Regions from separate parts of the Homo sapiens genome. Here region 1 is linked to region 2. The links come from fine-mapping of genetic effects on gene expression. A gene starts in region 2. The other region holds a variant in brackets. All regions are shown on one strand. Distances are from middle to middle. Region 1 holds the start of CHAF1A (chromatin assembly factor 1 subunit A). Region 2 holds the start of MPND (MPN domain containing).

Region 1 (2,898 bases), 60 kb after region 2:
AATTAATTCATTAGTCAAATAACAAACTAATAAATAGACACAGCTGTAATTGCTTTAAGGAAAAGAACAGTGTTGTAGGCACTTGATATTGTCAGGGTTGGGGAAGAAAAGGCTTCCTGGGGTGACGATCTAAGATCTGAAAAGTATAAATTAGCCAGGAAAAGAGCTGCGAAAAGATTGTTCTAGGCAGAGAAAACAGCATGTGCCAATTTCCTGAGGATTAAACCAGAAACGATCCATTTCGTCCATTTCGTTCACTCATTCTACATGTTATTTACTGAATGTCAAATACTTCCGAAGCGCTCCCCAGACTTCGTTTTATTGTTCTTGTAGAAAGCAATTTATAATTTTAATTGCTGTTGCTATATTTAGCCGATGTCCCATTAGGATAAACTCAAAACTCCAGGTTCCTCATCTAAATCCCACTTTCAAGTTGTCATCTGCGCCTTGCGTAAAATGTTCTGGTGACGTAAGAGCCTGGGCCTCCCTCCTCTTAGGGACTATCCCACGCGATCAGCCAGTCGCAGCGCAGAGCAATGAGCTTGACACCTCCTTCCTCCAATCGCAGGGCAGCTCCTCCCAGCCAATGACAGGCCTCCGAGGGGAAGCCCAGTCCCTCGCGGATATGTCAATGGGCGAGCCCTGGGAGGAATGGAAGTCACGGATCTCGCGAGGATGCCCCCGGCGCCCCTCAATTCCCGAGGCGGGCCGTCACGTGACCCGGGCTCGCCCAATTGGCGCGCGGACTGCGGGGGTCGCCGCGGTTCCCGCCAAATACGAGCGCGGCGGCCGCGGCGGCAGCAGCGGCGCGGGCGGGAGGGCGAAGAGCAGCGGCCGCCTGAGGGGAGCCCGCGCCTCCGCCGCCTGAGAGGAGGTCGAGCTGCCGCCGGGGCGATGCTGGAGGAGCTGGAGTGCGGGGCGCCCGGCGCCAGGGGAGCCGCCACAGGTCGGTTCGGGCCCGCGCCGAGGGGAAGGGGGGGCGCGGCGCGCGGCCTGGACGGGCCGAGGCGGCGATGGGAGGCGGACGGGCCTCCGGGCGCCAAGCCTGGTCCTGCGGGCCGGGCGTTCACCCCCTGGGGCCTTCTCATCCCCAGCGAGGGCCTGGCGTCCCCAAGGGCACCCTTGTTGACGTTATTGTTGTAGCCGCGACC[A/G]TATTGTTTGTTTCCGGCGCTTTTGCGTCAGTTCGTCCCTCCAGGACTCTCTGGGGCGGTGGGTCGGAGGGGCCGAGAGGGGAAACTGAGGCCCAGGGAAGCGAAAGGGCTTGCCCTGCAGGTTACTGGATGCGTTTGTGTCCCTTGACCATGTTGGACCTTGCAGCGGGTGGGGAAACTGAGGCCCAAGGTCGCACGGGCTCGGGGACCAGTACCGATGCCGCTGAGGGTCGGGGTAAGCCCGGGTAAGAAGAGGCCCAGATGGTAGAGATGGCCAGGAGGGTGGGACTCCCGAGTTCTTGCTCCTTCCTGATATGCACCGTGACTTCCTCCTCCGTGTGCCTTGGAATGGGGTCTTTGGAGCCCACCACAGGCCTCCTGAAACGTGGGAGGGTGAACCAAGGAAGACCAGACTGTCCCTCTCCCTTGCTGGACTCTGCATTACATAACGCTTTGGCAGCACTTGGCATTACGCTTTGGCACATAGTAGGTGCTCAGTAAATAACGTGAACGAATGAAGGGCTAGAATGGACGCCAGTCCAGTTTCTCAGCCTCAGCAGTGTTGATATTTGTTGCCGTCCTGGGCACGGCACTGCAGGGTGTTAAGCATCATCCCTGGCCTCCGCCTTTTGCAGGCCAGTAGCAGCCCCTCTCACCATGCCTTAGTAACAGCCAGAAATACCATTGCCCTGTGTCCCCTATGGGGCAGATTCCGCCTTGGCTGAAAATCATGGCTGTAGTTCCTTCTAGCCTGTGGGATTTCCCGGAGACATAAAATTAATATAAAGTTGGTACTGTCGTGGAGCTGTGATGTTTTAAGTCAGGATGTTTAACTTTATTTATTTATTTATTTTGAGACTGAGTCTTGCTCTGTTGCCCAACCTCTGCCTCTCTGGTTCAAGCGATTCTTCTGCCTCAGCCTCCCAAGTAGCTGGGATTACAGGCCTGCACCACCATGCCTGGCTAATTTTTGTATTTTTTAGTAGAGACGGGGTTTCACCATGTTGGGCAGGCTGGTCTCGAACTTCTGACCTCAGGTAATCCACCTGCATTGGCCTCCCAAAATGCTGGGATTACAGGCATGAGCCACCATGCCTGGCCAGGATATTTAACTTTAAAAAAAAAAATCGCTACTCGCTAGGACCATGCTATCATGAAAGGAAAGTATATTTTAGTGCCAAATAAAATTAGAAAGGATGTAATCGCAGAATAAAGAGCAGTTAGTAACTTTATACACACATATGTGTTAATCGTGTGTATCTTTGGATCTCTGGATTGGGAGTGTCCCGTTTTATATACAAGATTTTTTAATGAGGGTGGGTCCTGTTTTTAATGAGGTTGTTTCTGTTCCACTTGCACCAAAGCTAGTGACTCAAAGCCACACAAATAGATTTTTGTGATTGTCTCGAAAATAAAGTTAAGTGACTAAAAATCATATCCTTCAGTTAGGGGGTAGAAATCCATGGCTTTTGGTAAGTGGACACTTGAGAATGATACTGTCTTTATTTCTTTGAAGTGGCTAGAAAGGAAACATGAATTTTCTCAGTACCTTTTCTTATTCACTAAGCTTGGGGCGGTGGGTGAGGGGTGGTTTCATGTATGGACGATGGAGTTTTTTAGGAAGCCCCAGTCTGCTTTTAAAAAGTACTCACTTTTATGTAATGCTTACAAAACATACGTAGATTAACCAAAATAACTAAACTAGGTTTTGCCAAGCCAGATCTCCTGGTAAGTGTGAGCTTCCTAA
Region 2 (2,898 bases):
CTGAGTCTGCAGGCCTTGGGGATGCCCGTTGTTGGCTGGACAGTCAGGGTGGGGCCCCTAAAGGGTGCCTGGGCTGGACAACAATAGTTCACATGTACCCAGCTCTTGCTCTATGTCAAGTCTTCTTCCTGAGAACATTCCCGAGCACCCTGGAGAGCCTCCCCCGCACCCCTACTGTCCAGTTCCCACTTCCCGACTGCGGTCTGGGCAAAGCCACCCGCACTTGAGCCCATCCCACGGCGTCCCGGAGCTTTAGGAAGTCCCCATCCCGGACTTTCAACCCTGCCAGGGACTGAGGGAAATCCCAGAGCCTGGGCTCCGGGACGAAGGTCCCAGGACAGGGTCGGGGATGTAGTTGCAGAAACAGGGTAGGGGACAAAGGCCGGGGCTGCACTGATCAGGCGCGCAACGAGCCCGGCCCTGCCTCCTGCTCCGCCCAAGGGTATGGAGGGCCGGACTCGGCTGGCCTTATACCCGGAGCTGATTGGCTGGTGAGTCCAGTCCCTGCCTCTGATGGTTTGCGCTCATAACTAAGGGTTTCTACTGATTGGTTTACATGGACGTCTGCCCATTGGTCAAATCCGAGTTGGTGTAATCAGATAGTTGACACGGATTGGTTGGTGCGGGAATCCAGTAGCTTGCTATCGATTGGTTGAGGGTGAAATAAATGGGACTCTTATCATTGGCTGGCGGGCTCCGCAACGGTCCAATCATGGAATCAGTCGAGGGCCGCCCGGGAGGGTGGGAGTTAATTCTTTAGCGACTGAGGCCGGCTTGGGCTCTTTGGCTCCACCTGTGTCTGCGCGAGGCTGTTCCCTATTGGAGTCCGCATTGTTCCCCTGGACCTGAGTTTCTCCCCTGGTCCTAAAGGCCGAGGCCTCTGAGTTCCTCAAGTGCGGTGACCGCAGGTCTCACCTTCTCCTCTCCTTGCAGCAGGCTGAGCCACTCGCGCACCCGCCCCAGGCTTCCACCTTGCAACCTCTATCCCTGGACAGCGAGGCCTCAGTTTCCCCATTCGCACCAATGAGCTCCCGGTCAACACCCCGTCACGCCTCAGTTTCCCGAATGTTCCCAGAGGGCTGAGTTCCCGATCTCTCTCCCGCGTGGGCATCCCCGAGGCCTCAGTTTCTCCGCCCACCCCAGCGCGCCGAGCCCTTCCCCCGACCCCGGCGACGGCCAATGGTTGGGGCGCCCCTCCCCTCCCCGGGGCGGGGCCGCGTGACGTGCCGGGAAGCCGGAGTCTAGAGCTCCGGGCGCGGGGAGGCGCGGCCATGGCAGGTACGGCGGGCCCAGCGGGGCGGAGGCGCGGGGCGCGGGGCTGCAGGGGCGCGGGGCTGCAGAGCCGTGGGGCGAGCGGCCTCCCTGCAGCCTCTCGCTGTCCGCAGCTCCGGAGCCGCTGTCCCCGGCGGGCGGTGCGGGCGAGGAGGCGCCGGAGGAGGACGAGGACGAAGCGGAGGCCGAGGACCCTGAGCGGCCGAATGCGGGAGCGGGCGGTGGACGCAGTGGCGGCGGCGGCAGTAGCGTCAGCGGAGGAGGCGGCGGCGGCGGGGCCGGGGCGGGGGGCTGCGGCGGGCCCGGGGGCGCGCTCACCAGGCGCGCGGTCACACTGCGGGTGCTCCTCAAAGACGCGCTGCTGGAGCCTGGCGCCGGGGTGCTGTCCATCTACTACCTGGTGAGCACCCCGCCTCCCTCGTCCCATCGCGGCTCGGGCAGGAAGGGGAAACTGAGGCCTGGAGTTCCCTTGCTGCAGGACAAGCTTCAGTGTAGGGAGGGGACACTGAGGCCCGGAGCTCCCTTGCTGAGAGACGAGCCCCGGTGTGGCGAGGGGAAACTGAGGCCCGGGGCTCCGTTGACTGCAGGAAGAGCTCCAGTGTGAGGAGGGGAAACTGAGGCTCGGAGCTCTCTTGGCTGCAGGAAGAGCCCCGACATGAAGAGGGGAGACTGAGGCCCGGAGCTCCCTTGGCGGCAGGAAGAGCCCCGGTGTGAGGAAGGGAGACTGAGGCCTGGAGAGCTCCCTTGCTTTAGGACAAGCCCCAGTGTGGGGAGGGGAAACTGAGGCCCAGAGCTCCTTTCCTGCAGGAGGAGCTCCCGTGGAGGGGACACTGAGGCCCGGAGCTCTTTTTACGGGACAAGCCCCATGTGGAGAGAGGAATCTGAGGCACAGATGGGTCCTTCTGGTGGGGAGGACGTAGATTACCAAACACCCCATCCCACAAAGGAGAAGCTGAGGCTCAGAGAGGAGCCACCACCCGCGCAGGGTCAGATGGGCAACACCCCGGCCTTCCTGTGGTTTCCCAGCCGTGAAATGGAATATTTCCCCACCATGGGAAAATTAGGGGATGGTTAAATGAATAAAGCCCTCAGCAGGCGCCTGCCACATGGTAAGCACTTTATCTGTGGTAGGTATTAGTACTTTTTTTTTTTTTTTTTTTTTGAGACAGAGTCTCGCTTTTTTGCCCAGGCTGGAATGCAGTTGCTCGATCTCGGCTCACTGCAACCTCTGCCTCCCGGTTCAAGCGATTTTCTGCCTCAGCCTCCCGAGTAGCTGGGACTACAGGTATGCGCCACCACGCCTGGCTAATTTTTTTTTTTTGCAGTTTTAGTAGAGACGGGGTTTCACTATATTGGCCAGGCTGGTCTTGAACTCCTGACCTCGTGGTCCGCCTGCCTCAGCTCCCAAAGTGCTGGGATTATAGGCGTGAGCCACCATGCCCGGCCTTTTTTTTTTTTTTTTTTTTTTTTTGAGACAGAGTCTCGCGCTGTTGCCCAGGCTGGAATGCAGTAGCATGATCTCGGCTCACTGCAACCTCTGCCTCCCGGTTCAAGCAATTCTCCTGCCTTAGCCTCTTGAGTAGCTGGGATTACAGGCACCCGCCACCACGCCTGGCTAATTTTTAT

What was found.
Region 1: its variant is fine-mapped to the expression of MPND in whole blood (TOPMed, PIP above 0.99).

Annotation. Positions count from the first base shown.
Region 1 is chr19:4,401,869-4,404,766 of GRCh38, forward strand. CHAF1A (chromatin assembly factor 1 subunit A) reads left to right here and starts at 772. Exons shown (of 15, transcript NM_005483.3): 1 at 772-946. The coding sequence starts at 895. RefSeq lists enhancers at 532-1,229, 1,230-1,925 and a silencer at 740-1,019. The variant A/G (reference allele first, on the strand shown) is at 1,152.
Region 2 is chr19:4,342,323-4,345,220 of GRCh38, forward strand. It overlaps MPND (MPN domain containing), which reads left to right and starts at 1,240. Exons shown (of 13, transcript NM_001300862.2): 1 at 1,240-1,278; 2 at 1,386-1,672. The coding sequence starts at 1,272. RefSeq lists enhancers at 152-271, 292-1,023 and a silencer at 1,092-1,381.